3 linked regions of the Homo sapiens genome follow. The protein of the gene in region 1 purifies or fractionates together with the protein of each later gene. This does not show direct contact. Each region holds a gene or a part of one and is shown in the gene's direction. Other genes may lie near its edges.

Evidence for each region.
Region 2: the proteins of FSAF1 (region 1) and EIF5B purify together in Homo sapiens (affinity purification with mass spectrometry, with the first as the bait; one study listed by BioGRID). This does not show direct contact.
Region 3: the proteins of FSAF1 (region 1) and IARS1 purify together in Homo sapiens (affinity purification with mass spectrometry, with the first as the bait; one study listed by BioGRID). This does not show direct contact.

The regions. Positions count from the first base shown.
Region 1 is NC_000001.11:231,224,159-231,227,807, reverse strand, and holds part of FSAF1 (40S small subunit processome assembly factor 1), read left to right. Parts: intron 1-739; coding exon 740-835; intron 836-982; coding exon 983-1,069; intron 1,070-2,284; coding exon 2,285-2,337; intron 2,338-3,393; coding exon 3,394-3,529; 3' UTR 3,530-3,649.
Region 2 is NC_000002.12:99,392,875-99,396,523, forward strand, and holds part of EIF5B (eukaryotic translation initiation factor 5B), read left to right. Parts: intron 1-92; coding exon 93-224; intron 225-1,392; coding exon 1,393-1,524; intron 1,525-1,634; coding exon 1,635-1,711; intron 1,712-1,844; coding exon 1,845-2,009; intron 2,010-3,649. UniProt on the Homo sapiens protein: Plays a role in translation initiation.
Region 3 is NC_000009.12:92,290,819-92,295,237, reverse strand, and holds the start of IARS1 (isoleucine--tRNA ligase, cytoplasmic), read left to right. Parts: upstream 1-1,540; 5' UTR 1,541-1,627; exon of another isoform or gene 1,628-1,797; intron 1,798-2,644; exon of another isoform or gene 2,645-2,780; intron 2,781-4,315; exon of another isoform or gene 4,316-4,402; intron 4,403-4,419. UniProt on the Homo sapiens protein: Catalyzes the specific attachment of an amino acid to its cognate tRNA in a 2 step reaction: the amino acid (AA) is first activated by ATP to form AA-AMP and then transferred to the acceptor end of the tRNA.

The DNA.
Region 1 (3,649 bases):
ACCATCCTGGCTAACACGGTGAAACCCCATCTTTACTAAAAAATACAAAAAAGTAGCTGGGCATGGTGGCAGGTACCTGTAGTCCCAGCTACTCGGGAGGCTGAGGCAGGCGAATGGCATGAACCCAGGAGGCAGAGCTTGCAGTGAGCTGAAATCATGCCACTGTGCTCCAGCCTGGGCAACAGAGTGAGACTCCGTCTCAAAAAAAAAAAAAAAAAAAAACCGTGGGCGAGAGCCAGGCACGGTGGCTCACACCTATAATCCCAGCACTTTGGGAGGCTGAGGTGGGAGGATCACTTGAGCCTAGGAGTTCAAGGCCAGTCTGGGCAACATAGTGAGACCTCTTCTCTATAAAACATTTTTTAAGAATTAGCTGGGTGTGGTGGTGCGTGCCTATAGTCCTAGCTACTCGGGAGGCTGAGGCAGGAGATCACATGCCCAGGAGGTCAAGGCTGCAGTGAGACATGATCATGCCTCTTTTTAACTGTACTCCATCCTGGCGGGTAACAGAGCAAGACCCTGTCTCAAAGGAAAAAAAACAGGAGAAAGATGTTGTGAGAGATGGTGTATGGTAGGAGAGCCTCCATAGAGCTCCTTTGACCACATGACAGTGGAGTTATTATTCCTGTACGCTGTCATTACAGAGCGGTGGATCTGAAATGCATTACTTCTGGCAGTATGTTTTTTTCTTTGGAGTTGTTGGAATGCACTTGCGTCTGATTATGCTTTGTGTCCGCAGGCTCGTTTAGAAGTGCACCGGTTTGGTATCACGGGTTATGGAAAAGGAAAGGAGAGAATCCTGGAACAGGAACGTGCCATTATGCTGGGCGCTAAGGTGAGGGGCTGCTGCTACCTTTCATCACTAGACAACATGCAAAAAAAGCAAGAGCAAGGAAAGCTAAGAGCAAGTCAGGGCAAGGGACACTGGAACATTTTTGCAGAATAAAATATGATGGTTTGTTTCTTTGTTCTTTCATTACAGCCTCCTAAAAAGAGTTATGTGAATTACAAGGTTTTACAGGAGCAAATTAAAGAAAAAAAGGCAGCAAAGGAAGAAGAAAAGAGACTGGTAGGTGTGATGGTCTGTCCTTTATTCAACTAGAATGGGAAGATGGATGCTCTTTGCCACAGTGGAATGCCGGAAGCCGCTGCTTGGAGAGCAATGAAGGCACCAGAGTTAAAGGATCCCATGCTCCCCATTTCTTCGAGTTAGCTCTGTTTAGTAATACCAGCCAAGTAATCTGGCGTACTTACATGCAAGATTTGCTTTGAAATAGCAAACTCCTTGTCTTAGTCCGTTTTTGTTGCTGTAAAGGAATGCCTGATGCTGCGTAATTTATAAAGAAAGGAGGCTGATTTGGAGCATGGTTCTGCAGACTGCATGGAAAGCATAGCACTGGCATCTGCTCGGCCTCCGGTGAGCATCTGAAGCTGCTTCCGCTCATGAGGGAAGGCAGAGGGAAGCCCATGTGTACAGAGATCACATGGCAAGAGCGAGACATGAAAGAGCGAAGCAGCAGTGGGGAGAGGTGCCAGGCTCTTTTTAACAAACAGCTCTCATGGGAAGTGGGAAGTAACAGAGGGAGAACTCACTCATTACCATGAGGACAGCACCAAGCCATTCATGAGGGATCCATTGCCATGACCCAAACACCTCCCACTAGGTCCCGTCTCTAATGTTGGGATCAAATTTCAACCTGAGGTTTGGAGGGTCAGCTATCCAAACTATAGCAATCCTGTTCCAATAATGCAGGCTACTTTGATCTTTCTTCTATACTTAGGTTTTTTTTTTTTTTTTTTTTTTTTTTTGCATTTTACGTTGTATAACCTTGTATACAACACAAGGGCCTATGAAAAACCACAAGGGGAATAGATGTTACACTTTCTACCTTTCACCTAAAATGGAAGATTTGAGCTTTCAGTGTAAGACTATTAGTCTTACCTGGAATAGCCATTCACATTCTTTTGTCTTTTTCTTTCTAACTGAGACAGGATCTTGCTGTGTTGCCCAGGCTGGTCTTGAACTCCTGGGATCAAGTGATCCTCCCCCCTTGGCTTCCTGGAGTGCTAGGACTATAGGCATGAGCCACCACGCCAGGCCCAGCCTTTCACATTCTTGAAAGGGTTTTAGGGTAAAACTTTGAGACTGTTATGTTTAATATGCCCACTTGAAAGAAATGTTAAAAATGGTATCTCAATGACTTTTGGTCACAAACCTCTTGCCTTTTGTTTGAATCCCATTATCCACTACTAATATGTATATGATCTTAAATTCTGAAATCAGGCCCAAGAAACAGATATTTTCAAGAAAAAGAAGAGGAAAGGACAGGAGGACAGGTGAGTGATTTTATCAGGTCCTGGGGTTGAACAATCTGGATGAACCTACTGATGAGTTCTGACAAGGACGCCTTGAATGTATGTGGTGTTGCTAGCCCATTAGAGCGCTTCACTGTCTCTCATTTATCCTTGTCAAAGTAGGATTTAGTAAACTGCCCAAGATCAAACAACTGCCTGAGAACTGAATTAGGAAGTTTCTCCAATCTTCCACTTTTCACCGACACTCTAAGTGACTAGTGGAAAAGCTGCAGTTTACATTTCCAAGAAAAGACTTCTAAGAGTGCTGCTACAGCAGCGTAGTCTGGGTCTGTATAGCCTGCTCTTTGACATACCACGTAAGATAGAGCACCGTAATTATGAATAAGGGATGTTGACTTTGTTGCTTTATACTTGTTTGTTAGCTTTTGTTCAAATGCCTTTTTCTCTGTCTTTGAGTTACTGTTTCAGAATGGACTCTTTTTGTCTTAGCCTGTTTTCTTGGGCTCCTAGTGCACTTGTACATGCTGTAAAATGGTCATTTGTTCTGGCCACCGATCTGTATCTGTTGAATGCCTCTTTGTGCCAGGCATGTGGGTGTCTTAGGTATTGGTGTACAGCTGTAATCACACTAAAGATATCCCTGCCCTTGAGGAGCTTCATTGTAGGGAGAGAAACACCCCAAAACATACAAATGGATAAGTAAGATGATATCAGGTACTGGCAAGTATTGTAGAGAGGCTGAAAGAGAGCATTGTGAAGGAAAACCACAGGGAGAAGGTGAGCTGGGAAATTAGTCTGAGGAGGTGACATCGGAGCTGAGAACTGAACAAAGAAGAGGGGCAGCCTGGAAAGAGCTGGTAGCAGAACATTCCTTGCAGAAGAAACCAGTGCAAGGGCCCTGAGGCAGGAAGGCAGTAGCATGTTTCAGGGACCACAGGAAGGCGTATGGGGTGGGGGGTGTGCATGGCAGGCGACCAGGAGTTTGCAGGCCAGACTGCAGTGGCCTGGTTGGTGGTACTGTGATGCTTGTTGGTAAGCTTGACTATTTATAGTACCTTTCTCTTACTTTAAATGTAGGAAATCCAAAAAGAAGTCCGCTCCCAGTATTTTGTCAAATGGACGGATTGGACAGGTTGGAAAATTCAAAAATGGAACACTGATTCTGAGCCCAGTTGATATCAAGAAAATAAATTCTTCCAGAGTGGCCAAATGAAGTACTTTGTCAAATAAAACGAGGATGGGAACAACTGAGTCAACTGCAGCGGCCCTGGACCCTGTGCGACTCTAGATAGATCGTTCTTAACACGCATTTCACAGACTGCTTTTTCATTTT
Region 2 (3,649 bases), on another chromosome or scaffold:
TCTCTAATATCATGATGAGATTCTCTTATATCATCTTCTACTGCTAACCACTTTTAAAGTACATTTGGTAACAAATGTTTTTATCTCTGTAGAACCAGTATGAAAAGCATAAAGAAGTAGAAGCAGCTCAGGGGGTAAAGATTCTTGGAAAAGACCTGGAGAAAACATTGGCTGGTTTACCCCTCCTTGTGGCTTATAAAGAAGATGAAATCCCTGTTCTTAAAGTAAGTTCATTTAAAAATTTTTTTCCTTAAAAGCTATTTGAGTTCTGGCATGTGTCAGCATTGCACATGCTAGGGATGGTGACCAAAACTGGCTTTGTCTTTGTGAAGCCTGCCATTTCTTGGCCTCTTAGCAAACTTGATGCTTTTGAATTACTTCAGTTTGTACAATCATAGAAATTGGTATAATTTTTATATGTACTAGAATTATAAAAATAATGCATTTTATTCAAATAAAAAAATGAGTCAAAAGCTAGAAGTCGGCTGGGCATGGTGAATGCACACCTGTAGTCCCAGCTACTTGGGAGGCTGAGGCAGGAGAATCACTTGAACCTGGGAGGCAGAGGCTGCAGTGAGCCAAGATCGTGCCACTGCACTCCAACCTGGGTGACAGCAGGACCCTGTCTAAAAAAAAAAAAGCTAGAAATTGTATATTCTTTTTGGCCCATGTCCATTGTAGTTTCATAAAAGTGGACTTTGAGCCATAGTTTGTTCATTTGCCAAAGAGAAAATACAACTGTTCCCAGCACATGGCTCTTGTGTCCTGGGGCCGTGTTTATTATTTAGGCAGCATCAAGTCATGCTGTTGGGAATAAGCTATCTTAGGGCCAGTGAGAGAATAGGGCAGGCCTGTCTCTTCACCCAGTCCTGAGTATGGAGTGGACTTACGTCCCTTCAGTGGCATTGATAAACTTGTTTTACTTATTTCTGGTTAAAAATCTCTTCTTCCATTTCCCGACAAGCAGTGATGGAGGAAGGAGCTGCTGAGATCATGAGATTATGGTATTTCCTAGTTAACACAGACAAGCTGAACTTTTGGGCTATCATAACACATTACGTTTATGTGGTACTTTTTTAACTTTAAAAAAATTTTTCTTCTCTACTGTTTAATTCTGCCCACCCATCTACTGTATTTGCCAAGTGGAGCGGAGATTAAACATATTTCAAAGTTAGTAAACCTAAGACAAAGGTGAAGCGAAATACAGTTAGGGTATGGCCCCGAAATCTCCTCCTTCATTCCAGCACAGGTTCTGTGATGCCTTGCTCTATCTAAGCCTTAGTTTCATATTTGCAGATGAGTACTTAACCAAAGAGAGAAACACAATTTAATTCTAGACTGCTGAGGATAGAGGTGTGTTGACAACCTTATCAAATCTGATTTCTTTTCAAGGATGAATTGATCCATGAGTTAAAGCAGACACTAAATGCTATCAAATTAGAAGAAAAAGGAGTCTATGTCCAGGCATCTACACTGGGTTCTTTGGAAGCTCTACTGGAATTTCTGAAAACATCAGAAGTGCCCGTAAGTAACTACAACTCGCTCCACAAGTGAATGGTGGTTGGTCGTGGTTTTTGGTGCCATCGCCATTACCTGATACATACAGATAAACATGGAAACTCCCATTTTTTCAGTATGCAGGAATTAACATTGGCCCAGTGCATAAAAAAGATGTTATGAAGGCTTCAGTGATGTTGGAACATGACCCTCAGTAAGTAATTTCTCTTGCTATGAAGGCTTTCATGTTACGTAGCTATCTTAAAACTGTCCTATCTTAAAAAACTGTCCTCTGTGACATACTCTGTTTTTCACTGAATGGTCTTTGATGTGTTTTAACCTTTTAGGTATGCAGTAATTTTGGCCTTCGATGTGAGAATTGAACGAGATGCACAAGAAATGGCTGATAGTTTAGGAGTTAGAATTTTTAGTGCAGAAATTATTTATCATTTATTTGATGCCTTTACAAAATATAGACAAGACTACAAGAAACAGAAACAAGAAGAATTTAAGTAAGTTACTGTTTTTATTTACTTTGAGTCTTTGTTAATGAACATGATTGAGAATTACTGAATTCCAGAAAGGGCTGTAAACAGCAAAATCATGGCATTTACTCATCTACCAGAGGCTGCATCCTGAAATGGTGTGTTACAAACCAGAAACCCAACATACTGGGGACATTCCAGCAGTATGCAAACAAGTCTTGTCTGTGACTTCAGTTTAATAATCTTGGCAGACTTGGGTCTTGTTAATGGGTTCGTAGTTATTAAATGTAGGGACTTTATGTTGCTCATCTGGGATTATATAGATTGGAAGTAACAAAACTTGAGTGAGGAAAACCGGGAAATAAGAGATTCTGTGGGAGAGAAGTCCATTCCTCTACCAAACTTTCACTCAAGCACTCACAGTACCTACATTGCTGCAGTGGTAGAGGAGGCATCAGCAGAGAACCAGGCCAGCCTCCCTCCTCCTTTCCCTTTGAGACAGGGTCTCGTTCTGTCACCCATGCTGCAGTACAGTGGCATGATCATGGGTCACCCCAACCTCTGCCTACTGGGCTCAAGTGATCCTCCCACCTTGGCCTCCCGAGTAGTTGAGACTACAGGCTCACACCACTATGCCTGGCTAATTTTTTGTATTTTTGGTAGAGATAGGGTTTCGCCATGTTGGCCAGGCTGGTCTTGAACTCCTGAGCTCAAGTGATCCACCTGCCTCTGCCTCCCAAAGTGCTGGGATTATAGGTGTAAGCCACTGTGCCTGGTCTGGGACATGCTCTTATTGCAGGACAATTGACACATGTTGAGAAGTGCTGAAAAACCAAATAAAGCAGGGAAGGGCCTAGATAAGGAGAGGAGGGACTGTGATTAATGATGTGGTTTGGGAAGGCATCTCACCTCTTCAGACAGAGTAAGCCACACAGGCACATGGGGAGTGTCCAGAGAGAACAGCAGTGCGAGGCAGAGTGACCAGAAGGGACAGTGATAAATGAGGTCAGAGAGGGTGGCAGGACCTGTATCGTCAAGGATCTTACAGGCCATGGGAGGGATTGAGCTTCTCTGAGTTTTGCAAGAAGCCATTGCCAAGGCTGTGTGTTCACAATCAGACTGGTTAATTGGGTTGTTATGTGGACCTTGGGTTGTTAGGAAGTCAGTGGCAAGAGCCTGTCAGGAGGCTCCCACAGTCCAAGCAAGAGGTCTAGGTGATTCAGACCACAGTGATGATAGGAGTGATGGCGTAGTTTGGGATACATTTTTAAGTGGAGCTTACTAGTAAATATTAGGATTTAGACTGGTATATGCTCACTTTAGATCATGAAACCTGAAGTGAGAAGAATTCTACTTAACAAGACTGCTGGAAACTTTTAAAGCATTTTAAGCGTGTGCTCAATAAGCAGGGTAGTTATGTAGTGGCCTTTTGGATCAATGGTTTGGGAACGTGGTGGAGAAAAGGAGGGTGATAATACGGTCTGATGCCTATGTGATCCCCCAGTAGCCTACATATGTGCCTAACGAAGACCTGCCTGTCACCAGGTACTGCCTAGGTTCTAAGCCCCAGACTGTGGCTGACATCTTCAGCAGCCAAGCTCAGTGTTTTAGACTAGGAACAGAATGCTCCTGTGATGCAGCTTCTTTTGGAGGTAGGGCTTTAAAAG
Region 3 (4,419 bases), on another chromosome or scaffold:
ATCCTTTGTTTGAATGTTCAATTTCCTTAGGATTTTGAGCATTATTTCCAACACAACAGTACTATTAATATAAATGTTTCTCAATCAAATTTTTAAATAATTAGACTTGGCCTACCTCACCTTTGTCCAGGAGCCCTCTGTCTGGCTCTATCTGGGCTCTCTGGATAGGTGACAAAAATGAACTGAACAAGGTGGCAACGTGAGGAATGTGAAAACTTCAAACACATTCCAAATACTTTCAGTTAATTAACAAGATTTGCAGCTATTAAATTATGTACGTTATGTGAGTATAGTCAGAACACTGAGTTACCCATGATGGAGGACATGAAACCACTTTAATCCTTCACACAGGGCCAAGACGGTAAGTAAAGTTAAATATATGCTGAACAGACTATCAAAATGTTCCTAAACTTAATAAGAAACTGCATTCTACCTATTCTAGGCCAGATAAATTTTTTATATCCCTCTAACGGATACAATAGGCAGCTACGGAACTACTCCCAATTTGGCAAGATCCAGAATTTCCTTTAGAGGCTCTGGGGCCAAAGCCCGAGGCCTACTGCCCTTTGCAAGGCTCCAGATTTTAACCAGCAGATCAGTAAGGTACCAAGCCGACTCATAGCAATGATAATAAGTATGCAGGCCGGGTGCAGTGGCTCATGCCTGTAATCCCAACAGTTAAGGAGGCTAAGGCAAGCAGATCGCTTGAGCCCACGAGTTTGACAGCAGCCTAGGCAACATAGCAAGACCCCGTTGCTACAGAAAATACAAAAATTAGCCGGGCGTGGTGGCGCTAGCCTGTAGTCCCAGCTACTTGGCCAGGGATGAGGTGCGAGGATCATCTGATCCGGGGAGGTTGAGGCTGCAGTGAGCCATGACCGTGCCACTGCACTCCAGCCTGGGCGACAGAATGAGACCGCTTCTCAAAAAAAGAAAAAAAAATCGTTTGTGCAATGTTTTCATTACCGGAAACATTTTAAGTAAAATACAATAAAACTTTTAAATCTGGTTGTCAGACCCTTCCTTCCCTTTTGTTATTATCGTTTCACGTAGCCATTTATGATAGGAGAAGCGGCTTTGGGGTCGGCGGCTCAGGGCCCAAAAGTATAATTATTAAAGCCACCTCTCCGGAAGTTGCTGTTTGTCGTTATCAATTTAGGTACGAAGTGTCCAGTCAGATAAATACTGACAAAAGCAAACAAGATGAAGAACATGAGCCCCGACCTCGGCGCCCCTTCCCAGTGGGCCGTCACCTACCCGGAGGTGCCCACAACCCGAGTGAGACCTCGGTCTACACTACTGCAACGGATACAAGCAGCACGCACAGCGCCGCCCTCAGCGCTGGTTCGTTTTCCACGTGGAGGCGCAAAACCAGCAAGCACCACTGTCGCACCATCCGAGCCAGTGGGCGCAATCATGTCCGGCGCGACCAATCGGCGCCTGGCTTGTTGGCAGGTGTCAGGCAGCGCGCACTGATTGGCCGGTGCGGAGCCTGTCTCCTTCACTGGATCCCGCATTTTCAGCGCGTTGCATCACCTCCGTGCGCCCGGTTGCAGCGTGGACGCCGGATGAGTTGCTTTTAGGCTTGCTGGCCCGCGGGGCTGTCCAGGCACGCGAGGCCCCTCAGGTACGCCCTCTCTTCCCTGCAGGATCCGGCCCTCAAAGACGAGGGTCACGCACGCGTTACAACCCCGAAACAGTAGCACAAGATTTAATTTTTAAAAGAGCGTGTTTCTTCGGGGCTTGCCGTTCGTTCGTTTCCAGCCTCAGGAATTTATGGTCGCCTTTTTGAATGAGGTAGTGTTTGAAATGAGTAAAATCTTTTTAAAATGATATACATAGTATAAATTGATATAGCTGTGACTTTATGTATAGGCAATACGTATTTTTATATGTCTTAATTTATTACCTTCAATGGCTGCGAGATACTTATTTTATTGATGTACCGTAATTTACTTCAGTCACCATGAATATTTAGATTGTTTTCAGTTATTTGCCTGGAGAAACAATTATTCGGTGAATGTCATTGTATACACATTTTGTACATTTGCATGAGTATACCTGTGGAGTCTATGTTAATAGGATATAACTAAATTGAGGAAACGTTTGAGACGGTCCCACTTTCAGGTTACATTTGACTTAATAGATTATGAAGACCTGAGAATAAAAGGAGAAACAGAAATGGATTTAGAGGAGAATGAAAAGGGGGAACAGAAATAGGCTTATAGGTAGGATCCACATGACTTGATGATTAATTGGTTGTGTGTATCTTCTGAGTAGTGTCAGGGGTGACTCAAAAATGTCATGCCTAAGTAATGGGAAGAATATTGGAACCACTAATACAGTAGTTTAAAAGGGAAGCAATTCTGGAAGGAATTATGAAATTTTAAACAAAACATGGTTTTAGTGTGCGTTTCTAAAATATATTGAGGCAAAATAATATGAAGTAATGTGAATAATATGTAGTTAATATCAGGGAGGGTGGTCTCGAAATTGCTGAACGGGAAGTTGAGGTTAAGGTGACCTGAAGGAGTTGTGGAGCAGCGAAGAGTCAAGGGCCTGGATTATAATAAGAGGGAAGCAAAGGGGATGGCATCCCTCTGCACAACAAGGTTGTTGTGCAAGGTTAACCTGCTCTGTCCCTGCCCTGTGGTTGCTGGATGCTGTTGTGCATGGACAGCTCTCCAGTGGATTCGATGGGCCATAGCAATCCTGTGATTTATGCATGGAGGCTGCTTCTCCTCAGCAGCTGCCATAGCCCGGTCGCTGGTACATGATTCTTCCTGAATAGTCAATGCTGTTATACTGAGTGTTTATGCTTGACGTAATAATGCAGTGATTCTTAATCTTTGGGGAAAGTAGAGACTCCCTAAAAAACACAGTAAAAGCTGAATGAGCTGGCCAGGCATAGTGGCTCATGCCTGTAATCCCAGCCCTTTGGGAGCCCAGGGCAAGAGGATCGCTTTAGCCTAGGAGTTGAAGACCAGCCAGGGCAACATGGCAAAACCCTGTCTCTACAAACCACCCCCTCCCCACCAAAAAAAAAAAAAAAAAAAGCTGAGTGTGGTGGTGCACACCTGTAGTCCTAGCTACTTGGCGGGCTAAACTGGGAGGAACACCTGAACCCAGGGAGGTCAAGGCTGCAGTGAGCCATGATTGTGCCACTGCACTCCAGCCTAGGTGACAGAGTGAGCCACTGTCTCAAAAAAAAAAAAAAAAAAGGAATGATCCTCTTCTCAGAAAGCTTAAATCTTATTTTCTCAAAAATAAAAATTCAGATAGATATTCCTGAATAATTGTTAGAACAGTGCAAGAGTGGTGATGTTCAGACTTTGATGTGAATGCTCATCCCCTAGGGATCTTGTTAAAATGCAGGTTCTGACTCGTAGGTGCGAGGTGAGGCTGGTAAGTCTGCATCTCTAATAAGCTCCCATAGATGTGGGCCATAGTAGGACCAGCCTTGAAGAGATTAGAATGTGTTGGTATCTAAAGGTCTGTTAGTCTTCAGATAACAATCCCATAAGTTTCAGTTGGCCTCTGATAAGGTACACAATGAACCTAAATAAATCAGTAAATGCACAAACACTTATTTTGGTCCTTGAAAGGCTAGAGGTTATAATAAGAGTTGAAGATCTAAAATGCCTTAAACCTTCTGTTTAATACCTTTTAATGGCATACTGTGATCAGAAATAGCTATTTCAGTTAGTTAAACAGCCCAACTGTTCTTGTCCTGTTTTTTCTTAAATTAAACTCAGAGGCACTCACACATCTGAAAAATTAATGAGGGTAAAAGAAAATGAAAGATACTACTTGTCACAGACTTTTTTTTAAATGATAACTTGAATCAATAACTTGATTAGACTATGATGCTTTTGATGCTTTCAAAACTGTTTGAGGTATGTAGGTGTCTTTTCCTGTAGAGTTGATTACCCTGGTCTGTTGTGGTTCTTGAGTACTTAAGATTTTTTATCTTCTCTGTTGTTCCCTTATTAGCAATTTTATCCCCTTCTGATCTGATACTGACTTGGAAAGCTCGTCACCCACCTTGTTAGAATTGTTAAGTAAATATAAATAGACTTTGAGAAGGAAAGGTCTCAAGGGTGGCTCACTAGATACTTAAGTCATAGATTGATCAAGTATCTCTGCATGAGGTTATTAGCAAAACATTTAAAAAGACACTTTAAGACTTCTCTCATTAGGGACTAAACCAGAAAGGTATAGGGCTCATCCTTCATAAAAATCATGAATAAGCAATAAAAAGGGTAAAATGGAAAACTGGAATCTATATTTGAATGTGAGATTCTCATCTTTTTAGCTTTAAGATTTTTTAAGTTTTACCAGTTTTCCTCAAAGAGAAGATGAAGTTACTTCAAGAGAACTGATTTCTGTCATGTGAGTGTAGGTAAGAAAATTCTTAAC